2 separate regions of the Homo sapiens genome follow, and region 2 is linked to region 1. The links come from fine-mapping of genetic effects on gene expression. A gene starts in region 1. The other region holds a variant in brackets. All regions are shown on one strand. Distances are between the middles of the regions. Region 1 holds the start of LYRM4 (LYR motif containing 4). Region 2 overlaps LYRM4 (LYR motif containing 4).

What was found. PIP is the estimated chance that this variant, and not a neighbour inherited with it, causes the effect.
Region 2: its variant is fine-mapped to the expression of LYRM4 in prefrontal cortex (ROSMAP, PIP 0.95).

Annotation. Positions count from the first base shown.
Region 1 is chr6:5,256,961-5,265,295 of GRCh38, reverse strand. It overlaps LYRM4 (LYR motif containing 4), which reads left to right and starts at 4,346. Exons shown (of 3, transcript NM_020408.6): 1 at 4,346-4,648. The coding sequence starts at 4,563. It overlaps FARS2 (phenylalanyl-tRNA synthetase 2, mitochondrial), which reads right to left and starts at 3,783. Exons shown (of 7, transcript NM_006567.5): 1 at 3,636-3,783. RefSeq lists silencers at 4,266-4,485, 4,546-4,855 and an enhancer at 5,066-5,115.
Region 2 is chr6:5,132,634-5,140,968 of GRCh38, reverse strand. The region is part of intron 2 of LYRM4 (LYR motif containing 4); the gene reads left to right. The region is part of intron 3 of LYRM4-AS1 (LYRM4 antisense RNA 1); the gene reads right to left. Among named protein-coding and RNA genes, the nearest start is that of MIR3691, 12 kb to the left of the region's middle. RefSeq lists a silencer at 1,120-1,414. The variant A/G (reference allele first, on the strand shown) is at 3,501.

The DNA.
Region 1 (8,335 bases):
TCTTCCTCCATGCTTGGATATACACTGCAATCTTTAACCACATTCCTCATCTGGCTTTTACTTCTCATTCTGGAAACACCTTCTACGATGGAAAGCCTTCCCATAGGTGAAACTCCTGGTTCAATATTCCTCTTCCCTATTCCTTTAGCGTTTACTAATATTACTCATATCGCAGCAACTGTCAAAAAGAAATTATTGGCCAAGTGCCACGACTCACAGCTATAATCTGAGCTCTTTGGGAAGCCAAGACAGGAGAGGCACTGAGGAGTTTGAGACCACCCTGGACATCATAGTGAAATCTCATCTCTACAAAAAAAAAAAAAAACACTTAAAAATCTGCCAGGCATGGTGGCATGAGCCTATAGGCCTAGCTACTCAGGAGGCTGAGGCAGGAAAATCACTTCAGCACGGGAGTTTGAAGTTACAACGAGATATGATAGCACTACTGCACTCCAGCTTAGTAAACAGAGACCCTGTCTCTATAAAATAAATTATTGTTTCGCTTATCTAGTCACCTACAAGTTTCTTAGGGGTGGGGAAGCTCTCATCACTGTGACTATATCATCTTATATAATATATGGTACTTATGGGCCGGGCGCGGTGGCTCACGCCTGTAATCCCCACACTTTGGGAGGCCAAGGCAGCTGGATCACCTGAGGTCAGGAGTTCAAGAAAAGCCTGGACAACATGGTGAAACTCCATCTCTACTAAAAATACAAAAAATTAGCCGGACGAGATTGCACCATTGCACTCCAGCCTGAGAAACAAGAGTGAAACTCTGTCTCAAAAAAAAAAAAAAAGAAAAAAGAAAAGAAAAACCATAACCTATAGTACTTAGGAAGTGTTCAATAAATGCTGAAGGAATGAACGAATGAGGAAAAAGTCTTCAGTTTGTTCATCTGTACAAATGAATGAGTTGATATCTAAGGTCTTCCCCCTTCCCCTTCGTGTTCTATTAAAATGAAGGATCAATGTATAATACTTGGATTCATGTGTGGTGTAGAATAGAATAATTTCTTTTTGTTGTTGTTGTTGTTTTTTCTTTTTGGTAGACAGGGTCTCACTCTGTTGCCCAGGCTACAGAGCAGTAATGTGATCATGGCTCAATGCAGCCTCAACCTCCAGGGCTCAAGCAATCCTCCCACCTCAGCCTCCCAAGTAGCTGGGACTACAGGCACATGCCACCACACCCAGTTAATTTTTGTATTTTTTGTGTAGAGGTGAGGTTTCGCTATGATGTATTTTTTGTATAGATGGGGTTTTGCCATGTTGCCCAGGCTGGTCTCAAACTCCTGGGCTCAAGCAATCCACCTGCCTCAACCTCCCAAAGTGCTGGGATTACAGGTGTGAGCCACCATGCCCAGCTGAACAATTTCTAAATAATATCGTAAGTTACTACTACTATACAAATTTTACTTTATACATCATTTTGATATTTAAGCTTAAGGACAGTAAATTGTTGTTACACTGTTTATTATGATTAGAGAAATTTCTCTTCACAAAGCATTAAGTGGTCATTAACAACCCTAATTTTAATAGAAGGTAACACATGATCTTCCATAAAGAACTACAGGTAGTCGATAACTTTTGATAAATGAATACTAAAGAAATTTTTACGTTTTGATGCCTAAATGGTACCTCCTGTTTTACAGATACTCTCTAAGAAAAATTTCAACCCAGAATAGAATGACTATTAAAGGACGTATGTGTAAGGTCCATTCTTCAGCTTCTGGCCCAAATCTACTTACAATCTCAAATCGAGTTATTTTTTTTAAGTCATCTCCGCAATGAAGATGTGCAAAAGTGAGATGTAGCTACGGAATGATTATTTTCTTTTAGCCTCTCCAGGCAATGATGTCCAACACATTGGTAAACCATTTTAAATAAAATAATAAGGTATTTTTATGAAGACTTGGCTCAGAATTAACTGGGAAGCCTATCACTTTCCTAACTGCAACCATTGCTCGTACTAACAGAGGACTAAGCTACCCAAACTATTTAAACTATACATATTTATTTGGAAAAGTTTTATTTGATTACAACAAAGTTGAGTAATTTAGATACATTAATTATGTACGTTAATGATTAAATTCCTTGATAATTAGGTAGAAACAATTGTATATAGTAATTATTCCAACTTTACTCTCAAAAGCAAAATATAATAAAATAATGTAATCTTTGCTATTTTTAAAAAAGCCAAAATAATCTTCAAGTTTTTCCTTTTCACTCTGATAGCATTCTCTATCAGTAACTTGCATTAATGTTGTAGCTTTGAGGTGCCGCATATCATTTCATATCACTGGCACACAATAGTGTATCAAGAGAAATCAGCTCTGAATCTTACTCTATAACAATGTGCAATTGCCTTGGTCTTGGATCCTTTAAGAAATAGCAAAGGGAAAACTCAAAAAAGTCCTTTCAATAAAGCAGAGGCTAGATTTGCTCAATGACCTGACCAACCAGGAAGTAATAGAAGTTTTGCTATCCTGTTTAAAAAATAATAATAAACAATAACAGACATGAGATTTTCAAGAAATCAGGGAGGAGACTTAAAGATATCTTAATAAAAGTATTTTCTCTTCAGTGCCTTTTAAAAAATGTCATTGCATCAGGATTAGTAAGAATATCTGGATGCAAGGACACCAGGTTGCAAGTACACTAAAGAATGGTAAGGTCAGAGAAGTGTTTTTTCTGCCTTTAAAGTTCCTGAAAATAGAGGCTGGGCGTGATGACTCACACCTGTAATCCCAGCATTTTGGGAGGCCGAGGCGGGCGGATTGCCTGAGGTCAGGAGTTCGAGACCAGCCTGACCAACATGGTGAAACCCTGTCTCTACTAAAAATACAAAAATTAGCTGGGCGAGGTAGCGCGCGCCTGTAATCCCAGCCACTCAGGAGGCTGAGGCAGGAGAATGGCTTGAACCTGGGAGGCATAGGTTGCAGTGAGCCCGAGATCCCGCCACTGCACTCCAGCCTGGGCGACAGAGCGAGACTCCATCTCAAAAAAAAGAAAAGGAAACAGAAAAGTTCCTGAAAATATAAAGTTGTTTAGACATACAGCAGGTATATCGTTTCAAAACCAAATACACTAAAGCAGATGAGAACACAACCGTGACCAAGTGGTTCGGAGAAAGATGGATTTTAATGCAAAGTTGTTTTGTTTTCACGCATAACGTACTTCTCGCTGTGCTTGAGTGCAGAAAGGTGTGGTTCTTCCTAAGGTTGATTACATAAAGCAAGATTCCAAAAACAAGAAAAGTGCTTTGCAAACACAGTAACTAGGACTGGCTGAAGCTTCCTGCGTCCAGTGCCATGCTCAAAGATCAGAACAAGCAACTTTATCCACCACTTTAATAAGATGATTCAAAAAAGCTGCAGTCTTCTGAAGAAAGCCATGGTTGAAAACTTGCTCCGCTTCTTGGAGAAAGCCTAAAGCCCTAAAGGTCTCTAATTATTCTCCAAAGTCTACAACCCAAGCTGCATTTTATGCATTTATTAGGTTACAAAACCACGGGAACTCTTCACTCAAAAGCAAAAACACATCCGGAAAGAGGAAAAAATCCACGGCCAATGTAAACCCCCTACAACACCAACCGCCCACGTCGTACCCCAGGCTGCAATGAGGCCGGCACTCACCCACCGCTCGCCCGGGAAGCCCAGACCCAGGTGTTTCAAAATCAGAAGTACGGCAGGCTCGTTCGCTCTCACGGGCAAGAATCTTAAACCCCAACTTCAGAGATACCCGCGCACGCTGGGCGCTGCCATTTTGACAGAAAGCGGGCCTGCCCCAGAGGCCCCTACGCAGGTCGCCCTGAGCAGAGCCGGAGTGCCACAGAACCCCTAGCTCATCACCTCCACACCCAGACGTCGCATCCCCCGGCCTGAGGAATGCCAAGAAACCCCACCCTGCCGACCAGGATCAGGCGAAATCAAGTCACCCTTGAAATCCCGCAAACTCTCTCAGGCAGCGCCGAGGGCGACCGCAGCCGGCGTGGGAGGGGCATCGGCGGTCAGGGGCGGGGCGTCGGTGCGGCGGCCTTCGGTAACCCGGGCAACGCGGCCTCCTGGATGTAGGAAGGGGCGCTGCCCCCGAAACACAAATGTCTCCGCCAAGACCCCAGACGGTTCCCAAAGGCTCTCCGTGATGCAACTGCACGTCCCTCGAATGCCTGGGCCTCCGATATCCGTCCGCCAGGAGCTTGGCTGGATGCACGGGCGGCCAGTCCTCTTATTTCCCCGCCCTCCCGCCGCGTGGAGCGGCTGCTGGGTCCCGAGCCTCCGGGCGGGGGCGGGATCGGGGCGGGGCGGAGGCATCTCCCTCCCAGCACCGCCCCCTTAGCTGCCCCGAGCCCTGCCTGCGCCCGCCCCCGAAGCGGCGCGGGACGCCTGGCGCCGTCCGCGATCCGCAGGGCTGCCCGCTTAGGCTTAGGCCCGGCCCGCTGGCAAAGCCGAGCCGCAGCATTTTATTTCGTTCGTGGTTTCCGCACAGGCTGGAGTTTCGTGGGTTGGGTCGTACTTGGGACCTCGGCGAAGAGGACCCGTTTATTTTTTTTTCTTTCCAAAATGGCAGCCTCCAGTCGCGCACAAGTGTTATCTCTGTACCGGGCGATGCTGAGAGAGAGCAAGCGTTTCAGCGCCTACAATTACAGGTGACCCAGCGGGCACCGGGGGCCGGGGGCGGGGGGCCAGGGGCCGGGGACCGGGGGTGCGGGCTGACGCGGAATATCCCCGGGGACTGGGAGCCACCGTGGTTTGCCGGCGGCTGCGAGGCAAGGACCGGGCTCCGCCATCGAAAAGCGTGCTCCTGCCTACAGGTGTGGCCTCTGAGACCTCGGGGAGGAGCCTTTCTTTCTACCAGGGGAGACGTTCATGTCTTGTGACGTTTTCCCCCTAAAGGCTATCTTGGTAGTTATTCTAGGAGCATGATTAGTGTTATGTTTCTGCAGAAGAGAAAAAAGGGATGGAAATCAGTCATTTGTGAAGTTAAGGCCAGTGTGTTGCATATGTAAAACTTCCCTTGAGCACTGGAAGAGTTGAGAGTGGAAGTGGCCAGTGAGTAGTACACTGCGACAAAGCTGAAGGCACACTCTAGCACCTCCCTAAAATTTCCTAGGTGTCGTAATGAGTTCTTTTGGTTGCAAGAATCCATTCTATTTAGGGTATGGTGGAAATGCGTAGCGGAAAAGGAAAAAGGGTCTCACAAGCTTTGGAGCTGAAACCTCAGTTTCTCCTGGCTCACCAGACAGAGATCCCGCTTACTGGACCTTGACAGCAGGATATTGAGGGCCTAAACTCACATCTTTAATATAACACATTCACTTTTTCTCACGCCTCCCCACTCCCCTATTTGCCTATGAGTCTTTTATTGTTACTCTTTGTATGTTTTTTCTAATTCAGAGCCTCTGCTTTCACAGTGTTGCTGGTTCTGACCCATCATTTTCTTATGGATTCTCTCTCTGCATTTTTTTTTAGATTTGTTTTTTGTTTTGTTTTGTTTTTACTAACTACCTGTCTCTCTCTGAGTTTGAGCCATATTCCCATGAGAAAGAATCTGGTTGGATCAACTCATCTCTTTACCTCAAGCCTCACTTAGGTGACTGGCCAGACTGTGGATTGGATGTCATAAGAGCAGAGCCTACCCTTGGAACACACCTGGTTAGGTAGGCCCCCCTCCAGCACGTGTGTGAGCTGGCAGGCCCTGAGATGGGTCTGCCCAGTACAACCTCTGTCAGAGGACAGGAACGCTAAGCCTCTTAAGCAATGACTCTCAAATTTTTAGAAACCCGCCTGGAAAATATACTCATGCTGCAAATTTGAAAACAGCATCTGGGTCATACCACTGAGGTTGTATCCACCCAGTTAAGTGGTTAAATTTCACGGGAGAGAATGATTTTACTTAATGACTTTGACTTTGGAGAATAAAGAGTGTAATAATAAGCATACTGGTGGAATTTTAGCAAGAATTAACCAAACACCTAGCACCAAGTACTTAACCAAGTCTGTTGAGGAAACACATGAAATATGCAAGTTAAATAAATAGAAACCATTTGATTTCACCATAGTCTGGAGTAAAATAGTTTGTCATTAAAGCTTACTCAGGATACACAAGGACTTGGAATCAGCAGGCAGTTCACACACTAAGGAAAGTGGCAGGGAGAGGGTTTATGTGAGAGCATGTAAGAAAGTCAAGGTGGAGCCCTCGAAGACTAACTTGGACAAGTCTCTCAATCTCTGTATTTCAGTTTTCTTGTTTATGAAATAGACTGTTGGACTAGACAATCTCTAAGGACCCTTCCATTTCTGAAATTCTCTTTGGAAATGATTTATGAGCAAATGAGGCCCAAGCGTTTTCAAATGAGTAATTGCCAACTGAACAGGAAAATCATTCACGAAACTCAACAGGAAAATCATTCAAACTTTAGGAAAATCATTCAAGACTCTACCTGAAAGGCAGAAAATTGAAAATGGGTTTCAGTATGGGCAACTGTAAGATCATATGCATTCAGAAAATAATTGATCAAATTATACCTTAAGCATATACTTTTAAGCTAAATTTACTATCCAAATATAAATATATTATCCAAAGGAATCTGATAATCATTTTATACTGTTACCTGAGATCATAGACCTAAAAACCGACATTCCTGCTATTACCTCCCTAGATAAACTTACTTGTTATAAAAATACGTCCTTTTACATTAAGGCTGTGTCTTGTGAATTTCAGGAAAAGTCCCTTCCCTCCTCTCTAATCTCTGCAGCTGTTTGTCACTGATGGCAAATCAATAGCAACACAACATCCACTATCAATTCTGTGTGCCACTGCTATCTTATGTTCTTCATGTCTATTAACACATTTGTTTTGACAATAATCTTGTGAGGTAGGTACTATTTGTATTACCCTGTAAGGCAACTGAGGCACAGGGAGCTTAAGTTACCTATCAAAACTAACACAGGTAGTGCTGAATAAGCAATCAAAAGCAGACTAGTAAACGTTTTTTAATGACCTGCGAATTGTGCCTTAAGTAATTAGAGTAGTGAAATAAATACTTTGGAACTCTCTTGCAAGACCTATAATATAGGCCACGTTTTGATAGCAGGAGCCCTGTCTGCTCCTCCAGTCTCAGCCTAAGTCCCACATGTGCATCCTGTCCTCTGTCATCATCAGTTGCAGTTTCCTAAATGTGCCACGTCCTGTTGGGCCTCCAGGCCTTTACAAGTACTGTTCTATCCAGCAGGCCCTTTATCACTCCTGTCTAGAGTGCCCCCTCTTCCTTCAAGATTGAGCTCAATTGTCACCTTCTCTGAACAAAAGTTTTCCCAACTCTCTTCATCCCACAGCTTCCACTCCCATCCCTCCCACCAGCCAAACAGGTCTCATTGCTGTGTGTCATTCTTTTACCTCAGTGCTTCTACAAAACATCTCTGAAGCATGCTTTGCCCAGTGCTATATCACAGCTATCCCCAACCTTCTTGGCACCAGGAACCAATTTCATGGAAGACAGTTTTTCCATGGACCGGGTCAAGGGAGGGGATGGTTTCGGGATGAAACTCTTCCACCTCAGATCATCAGGCATTAGATTCTCATAAGGAGCATGCAACCTAGATCACTCACATGCACAGTTCACAATAGGTGCACCTATGAGAATCTAATGCCGCCGCTGATCTGACAGGAGATGGAGCTCAGGCCATAATGCGCACTCACCCACCGCTCAACTGCTGTGTGGCCCGGTTCCTAACAGGCCACGGACCAGTACTGATGGGTTGGGGACCCCTGCTATACCAAGCCCTGGAGAGAGAAAGATGAGATTTTTGAACTAAGCTAGGCACCTGTTATCAATGGCTTTACAGGCCTATGTGGGACACAGGTACAGAGATAGTTGTCACAGACTGGGTTAAGTGCTGTGACAGAAGGATGTACAAGGTGTGGAATCTAGAAGGCCTCCCAAGGGGTGATGTTGGATCAAAGGCATGAAGCAGCTTGGTGTGGTCAGGCAGGCAAACAGCACAGCACTGCCAGGGAGGTAAGTATGATGGGGTTGGGGGGGCGGTGACAGGAAGGCACTGAGGTTGGAGAGGGCCACTGATTTGAGGGCCTGGGGGCCGTGCTGAGGACCCTGGACTTTACCCTTAGCTCACAGGCAGCCACTAACCTGACATGACCAGATTTGCATTTTCTGATAGATCACTCTGGCAGCAGTGTAGAAGATGATTTTGAGGGGCCAAGGACATCAAATGGGAGTTGATTACAACAGTGCAGAGTAGAGATTAGGACGCTAGTAAGGACAGGAATAGTGGAAGATAGAGAAGAATGTTGTATTTGATAAATCATTAGAAGG
Region 2 (8,335 bases), 120 kb after region 1:
ACAATGCTTGAATACTTGTAGAACTGGACACCTGAACAACAAGTTGGAAGGCTTTTAAATCCATTTGGTTGGTTATTTAGGAGGTGGAAGTGGCATAAGGAAGGCAGTACTGCTCACAGTCTAGGAAAAAGGAAAGTCTACGTTTTGGTTTCAGTTCGTGTTACCTCTTTTATTTTTCATAGTGGCAAAATATACGTAACATAAAGTTTACCTTCTTAACCATTTTTCAGCATGTATGTTACATTTTTAACATGCTTTTGTTGAATGGTTAAGAATCTAGGAAATGATAAGCCTTACATGTTCCCAAGTGCAGATCAAGTTGAAGCACAAATTGACTTTCCCGAGCCCAACTCCAGGTTCCAGAAACGGGATCCTCAGCCACACACTGTGCATACCTGTAATGCACTTAAGTACTTTCTACTTGTAAAGTACAGAGAGCACATCATAGTTTGTCTAAACCTTTGTGTTGGTGTCCTTCAACGCCACAGCCTTATGTACTTTGGAAATACTCATTATACAGGTTTAAATGTTCCTTCCTCCAAACAGATTTTTTCAATCTTTTCAAATTTTAGTTAAGCTTTATTTTTTTTTAAGTATTGTTAAAAGACAAACCTTAGACAAAGTAAATTTAACCAAGTTTAACTGAGCAAATAACACTTTGCAAATCAGGCAGCCTGTGAACCAGAATAGGCTCACAGAGGTTCCAGCACAGTCACGTGGTGAAAGGTTTTTTTTTCTTTTGAGACAGGGTCTCGCTCTGTTGCCCAGGCTGGGAGGCAGTGGTGCGATCACGGCTCACTGCAGCCTGGGACTCCCAGGCTTAAGTGATCTTCCCACCTAAGCCTCCCAAGTAGCTGGGACAGGCACAGCACCATGCCCCACTAATTTTTGTATTTTGGGGAGGACAGGGTCTCACCATGTTTTCCAGGCTGGTCTCGAACTCCTGGGCACGAGTGATCCACCTGCCTCAGCCTGGGAATTGGTGGTGTGCTTGTCCCAGCTGCTTGGGAGGCTTACGTGGGAGGATCGCTTCAGCCTGGGAGGCCAAAGCTGCAGTGAGCCGTGATCACACCACTGCCCCCCAGCCTGGGCAACAGAGCAAGACCCTGTCTCAAAAAAAAAAAAGAAAAAAGTGCTGGGGTCACAGGCATGACCCACCACGCCCCAGCCTGGAAGAAAAATTATAGGCAAAAAAAGGAAAGTGATGTACGGAAAATGGAAATGAGGTGCTAAAACAGCCAGATTGGCGACAGTTCAGTTGTTTGCCTTATTTGAGCACAGTTTGAACAATTGGCTGCCTATAGCCAAAGCTCAGTGATCAGCACAAGAGTAGATTATAGTCTGTGTACACATCCAGTTAGGTTACAGTTCACTGCATACACAGAAACCTTTAAAATATGTAAAGAGGCAGCTTTAGGCCAAACTTAATTTAACAATATCTTGTTAATATTAAACACAATCATAGCAAAAGTGTCGAAAACCAGTCAAGTGCTACTGTTTTAAATCGAGCCAAACATTAACTTTTATCTGATACTCCTCATTGTCCTACTCCAGTTTGTATTTGTAAATACAGTGTGACCTGTGTCATGAATGAACCTTAATATTCTGTTGCCTAACTTTGAATGAAGCCTGCGCCTTCGTTGGTCAGAGTTCTGGATATGATATGCTCACCATGTTTCCAGAGTTGCTGGTATTTCTCCAGTTAGCGAGGTGGAAATGCAGCGGTGCCTGGGAAGATCAGAGGCACTGGGCTGGCAGGCCTGCTTTGCCCTGCCGCTCACCAGCTATTGTCATTCAGAACAAGCTACTTATGCTCTCCAGGCCTGTCTTCTTCTCCCTACCGCAGAGATGTCAAAACCTATTTCCAGAGAGTGTTAACAAGGACGACATTCAATTACATCTACAAAGTACCTAGCATAAGTGCCTAGAACATAGTAGGTACTCAACGAACATCAATATTACTCTTCTTTTGAGATCAAATTCTCTTAGGCTTATGTGCAACAATCACTTTGAAGTCCTCTGATTGCTCGAAAGACTTTCTTTAAGACTTCAAAGTATTAACCTGATTGTGAAGAGCAAAATGTCTATGTCTAAAGGATTAATCTCATTTCTAGCTTTTAACCTGTCTTAAACACCTCTAGCACTTGCTTCTGTTTGAAATCCCAAAGAACTCTTTCTTTCTGTTAACTGTTACTCTTAACTTTTATTTTTTTCTCTTTTTACCCCCAGGCATAAAGTCCATAGTCATTGTCTGCCACCAGGTTTGTTTTCTATTGCATCTTGATATTTTCTTGTGTTTTCAGTGGGGAGCATGTTAGAATTCCTTAATATACAGATGTCATAGTATATAAGGTTTTCTTGTGACTTAGTCTGGAAATCATTCATAAAAAAAACAGTCATTATTCTTACTGGCTACTGATAAAAATTCTTTAAGTAAGAAAAACTATCGATTTTTTTTTTTTTTTTTTTTTTTTTTTTTTTGGAGACAGGGTCTCACTCTGTTGGCCCAGGCTGAAGTACAGTTGGCATGATTACGGCTCTCCGCAGCCTCAACCTCCCCAGCCTCAGGTGATCCTCCCACCTCAGCCTCCCGAGTAGTTGGGACTACAGGCGTGTGCCACCATGCCCAGTTAGTTTCTGTATTGTTTGTAGAGACAGGGTTTTGTCATGTTGCCCAGGCTGGTCTCAAACTCCTAGGCTCAAGCAGTCTGCCCATCTTGGCCTCCCAAAGTGCTGGGATTACAGGTGTGCACTACCACACCTGGCCTTTGAATATCTTCTATATATAAAATCTTGGCAGAAATGTCTTCTTTTGTCATCATGAAATTTACTTTCATGAATCCTCCTCAGTGCCCCTTGTCTACCATTAGTCTTTATAGAATCCTTTTTGACCTGCTGAAAGACAGCACCATTGTATTTTTCTTTGCAACTTGTGGAGCCACCACCTTCCCCAGTACGTTTTGACCAAAGGCAAAGTGAACTCTGCACCACCTCAGGCCTCTGAGTAACACAGTGGAAAGGGGTGAGAAGACTTGGCTATTGTGGTTTGCAAAAATGGCAGGATGAATGCTCCATATCCTCCCTCAAAAATACATTCACATGAGGATAATTTGGGTGGTGGGCCACAGGCAGCTTGCAAGGACAAAGCCTGTCAACTCTTACTCCAGTGTGTGACCTGAGTGGAGATGTCTACAAAAGAGCAGGAATCCTGTCTTTGAGAATAGGGCAACAATCAACTGGGTGGTTTTAATTATTCAGATAGAGTCACAGGACATTAGATGCAGAATATTAAAATCTCCATCATTCAGGGGAAATGATCTTAAATACAGATAGAGGCATATCACTAGCCGGGTAGCAGAGTCATTATTTAAAGGACACTAGAGTTCCTCTGTGAGGAGGAACTGAGCTCAAAGAAGATGTTCAGTATCAATGCAGTGAGATTACAGAGTACAAATCTGAACACCTTTGTAAGCTTCTCACTAAGTGGAGGAGTGGGGCCA[A/G]CTCCAGGAGCTTGGTTTTTGCTTGTCTGAGAATCTCTTGACAGGTCCTAGAAGCAACCATTCTATGTTGGGGCTTAAAAAGAAGAGGTAGTGTGATCCAGCAATCCCACCCCTACATGTATACTCAAGAGAAATGAAAACGTGTCCACACAAAGACTTATATGCAAATATTTATTGAAACCTTATTAGCAATAGCCAAAAAGTGGAAACAACCCAGATGGCCATCAGATAATAAATGGATGAGCAACATGTGGTATAGCCATACAATAAAAATATTATTGGTGGTAAAACGGAACCAAGTACTGATACATGCTAGAACACGGATGGCCCTTGAGAACATTATGCTACGGGAAAGAAGCCAGACACAAAAAGTCACGCATTGTGTGATTTCGTTTCTGTGAAATGGCCAAAATAGGCAAATGCATCGAGACAGAAAGTGGGTTAGCGGTTGCCAGGGGCTAGAGAGGATGGGACATTTGAAAGGCGACTAATGAGTAGTGTTTCCTTGGGGGTAATGAAAATGCTCTAAAATTGATTGTGGTAATGGATGCACAACTGTGAATATACTAAAAACCATTGAATTGTACACTTTAATTGGATAGATTTGATGGTGTATGAATTATATCTCCATAAAGCTGTTAAGAGACATCAGGAAGAGACCAGAGTTTCTTCTGTGCGGAGCCCTCTGCCACAGGAAAGGAAGGAAGTCTACCCAGTCTTCCTACAGGCGCTGCTCCTTGGGGCGGTTTAGCATGTCATTACCACAGACTGTGGCTAGGACCTGTGGGACTCATTTGTAAATGCCACCTTCTTTGACAACACCTGGGATTGTTGAAATGGAAGTAATCGATTACTAGAAGCCATTAATTGAAAGCTGTGTGCCAGGCATTGTAGTAAGACATTATAAATACCATCTAACTTATGTAAAATTGACATTATCCCATTCTGTAGGTAAGGAAACTGAGACTACAGGGTTAGGTGAAACCCAAGGTTTCGGAGCCAGTGATTGGCAGAGCAGGTGTTTAAACCAGGTTTGTCTTGGGACAAACCCCAGGCTCTTAAGTACTACATTATCGTGTCTTCCCGCTTCTCCACCCTCAACCCAGCCCCAGTCAAAAAGGCAGCAGGAAAGGGGACAAGTTATCATTTAGAAGAATACTGATTTGGTTTTAAAAGTATTGAATAGAATGACCAAATGATCTAGTGATTCCATTTCTCAGTATATACCCCAGAGAACTGAAAGCAGGGACTCAAAAGGATACTTGCCCACCAGTGTTCAGAGCAGTATTATTCACAACAGCAACCCAGTGTCCCTCAACAGACGCCTGGATGAACAAAATGTGGTACAGCCGTACAATGGAATGTTACTCAGCCCTAAAGAGGAAGGAAATTCCGCCACACGCCACAGCAAGGGTGAACCTTGACGACATTGTCCTAAGTGAAATAAGCCATAGAAGAAACAAATGCTGTATGATTCCACTTACGGCGGTCCCTAGAGTCCCCCTACAGACGGAAAGTAGAATTGCGGTTGCCAAGGACTGGAGGGGAGGGAGAATGGAGAGTTAGTGTTTAATGGCTACAGGGTTTCAGTGGAGGAAAATGAAAAGATTCTGGAGAAGGATGCTGTTGATGGTTGTACAACAATGTGAATGTACTTAATGCCACAGAGCTGTACACTTAAAATGAATAAAATGATAAATGTTGTGTTTTGTGTATTTAACACACACACATACACATCAGTATTGTGTGTGTTTGAAAGTCTAGAGCTAGAAAGCTTTTTTGAGTATATTTAGCAGGAAAACTTAAAAGAAAGTTCTCGTCTTTGGAGGAGACAGGCCTGAGGCATCCAGAGGAAATGAACACCACCTAGGGAGCCAGTTCCATTCCCATGAAAATCACACCTGGAGCGATCCGCACCCTCCACAGCCCCAGGAGCGATCCGCACCCTCCACAGTCCCGGGAGTGAACCGCACCCTCCACAGCCCCAGGAGCGATCCGCACCCTCCACAGTCCCGGGAGTGAACCGCACCCTCCACAGCCCCGGGAGTGAACCGCACCCTCCACAGCCCCGGGAGAGAACCGCACCCTCCACAGCCCCGGGAGCGATCCGCACCCTCCACAGTCCCGGGAGCGATCCGCACCCTCCACAGTCCCGGGAGTGAACCGCACCCTCCACAGCCCCAGGAGCGATCCGCACCCTCCACAGTCCCGGGAGTGAACCGCACCCTCCACAGCCCCGGGAGTGAACCGCACCCTCCACAGCCCCGGGAGTGAACCGCACCCTCCACAGCCCCGGGAGAGAACCGCACCCTCCACAGCCCCGGGAGCGATCCGCACCCTCCACAGTCCCGGGAGCGATCCGCACCCTCCACAGTCCCGGGAGTGAACCGCACCCTCCACAGTCCCGGGAGCGATCCGCACCCTCCACAGCCCCGGGAGCGATCCGCACCCTCCACAGCCCCGGGAGCGATCCGCACCCTCCACAGCCCCGGGAGCGATCCGCACCCTCCACAGTCCCGGGAGTGATCCGCACCCTCCACAGTCCCAGGAGTGAACCGCACCCTCCACAGCCCTAGGAGTGCCGTTACCAAGGGAGAGGAAGGAGAAGGAATAGGGATGAGATCTCTTAAATAGACATTTGATGACATTTTCCCCAATTTGTTAGTTGCAATGACGAAGACTTTTTGCTGTTTAACCTGTTATTATGGAAAAATGTGAAAATATACAAAAGTATGTAGAATTGTCAAATGAGTCCTGTGTATCCATCACCCATCTTTAAGAGTTAGATACTCTGTAATATCAATAGATGGTATTTTTCATCCTTACGCCTACCCATGCTCTCCCGTATTGTTTTGAGAAACTGTGTATTCGTTTTCATATTAAACTATTTTGGTACATATCTGAAAAGATGATTCTTTTTAAAACATAGCTATGATACCGTTATCATAACTAACAAAATAATGCTAATTCCTTAATATCATCAAATACAAAGTGTTTAAATTTTAATGTCTCACAAATATCACCAATCTTCAAACTGGGTGATCTGTCTGTAATCTGTCTTTAAAAGAAATCTATAGGCCCCATCTGTATCTTTTTTTCTTCCTTGCTCTTCTTTTTCCTTATAATTTATTTGCTGAAGAAGTCAGTTCTTTTGTCTGGATTTTGCTGATTTTATCTTGGTTTTCTTGCTTATCTTACATAAAAACTGAAAGCTCTATCTTAACCAACTAGGTTCTTAGCCTTGGCCAGACATTACACTCACCTGGGAAGCTTGTAAAATCCTGACATGTGTGGAAAGCAGCTTGTCACTTCCTCAATAAGTTAAACATAGAATTACCATATGACCCAGCAATTTCACTCCAAAAGAATGGAAACAGGTTCAGACACAGTCTTGTATTCGTATGTTCACAGCAGCACTATTTTCAATAGCCAAAAGATGGAAACAACCCAAATATCCTTCAGCTGAGGAAAGGGTCAACAATATGTGGTATTTCCACGCAATGGAATATTATTCATCCTTAGAAGTCACAAAGTACTCATGCGTGTTTACAACCTGGATGAACCTTGAAAACACTGCGGTAAATGAAAGAAGCCTGACACAAAAGCCACATATTATATGATTTCATCTGCATGTCTACGGAAACCCATAGAAACAGAACATAGATTAGTGGTTGCCAGAGGCTGGGAAAATAAGAAAACAGGGAGGGGCTGCTTAATGAGTATGGGGTTTCCTTTTGGGGGTGATGAAAATTTCCAGAACTAAATAGTGTTGATGATTGTACAGTTATGAAGGTACTTAATACCACTGAATTACGCACTTTGAAGTGGTTTAAATGATTTTATGTTATGTGAACTTTACCACAATTTTTTATAATTCTGATGTATAAAAACACCCCAGACCAAGTAATTAATAATCTCTTAAGTGTGACCCGAGCATCAGAATATTCTAAAGCCCTCCAAGGGATGCCAGTGTACACGCAAGGTTTGGAATCATTGACAGAGGCTGGACGGGTCAGGATCGTGTCTTTGGAGCCTTCCTCACAGGTGGTGGTGGCGTGCTAGATTTAAGCCCGTGCAAGTTTGCTTCTGTATTCTAAAGGATAACTATGTCTTTTGCACTCCTGTCAGACAGCAGACGCTGTCAGGAATCTGCTGCCTACAGTCACAAAAAATGTTCTCTCCTTTTTTAGAAAATAAAATTTAGGAAAACCTAAGAAGAAAACGATCGATCATCTTGATTTTGCTTTTATGTGAGAGGAAAGAGCCCTCTGTTTCTAGCTACCATATAGATGTGTAAAACAGTGCCACCCATAGCCTCACCCGTGAGATGGCAGCACGGGGACAAGTGGCCCTCAGGCTGCCCAGCACACACACCCTGCCCAACACAACAACAGTAACAAAAAGAGACAAAGTAACCAGTCCTGATTCCTTGGGGAGGCGGGCGAACCTTCTCTAGTCATCTTTGTCCTGCAGTGGCTGGTGCTGCCGTCATACCCGTAGAATCTCAGCAGTGCGTGCTTCCCTACCCTGGGAAGGAAATGTCATTTCCTTGCAAGACTCACTTCTCATGAGCACTGATAGGCCACAGCTGCTGCTGGCTCTGCAGCCTTGGCAGAGTTGCAAATAGGTTAAACGGAGATGGGAGTTCTAGTTCTCTTTTGCTTCAGCCAGCTTCCTTTTCTGGCTAAATCTGAGTAAACTCAAAAGAAACTGGGCAAGGGGTTTACGGCTCCCCATGGTGCTTCACAAAGGTAAGTTCCACTTATGTGATCCAAGAGGTGGTTGGCTTGTGATTTTCTTTGCTCAGCATTACTCGTTAATATCCTGAACTCACA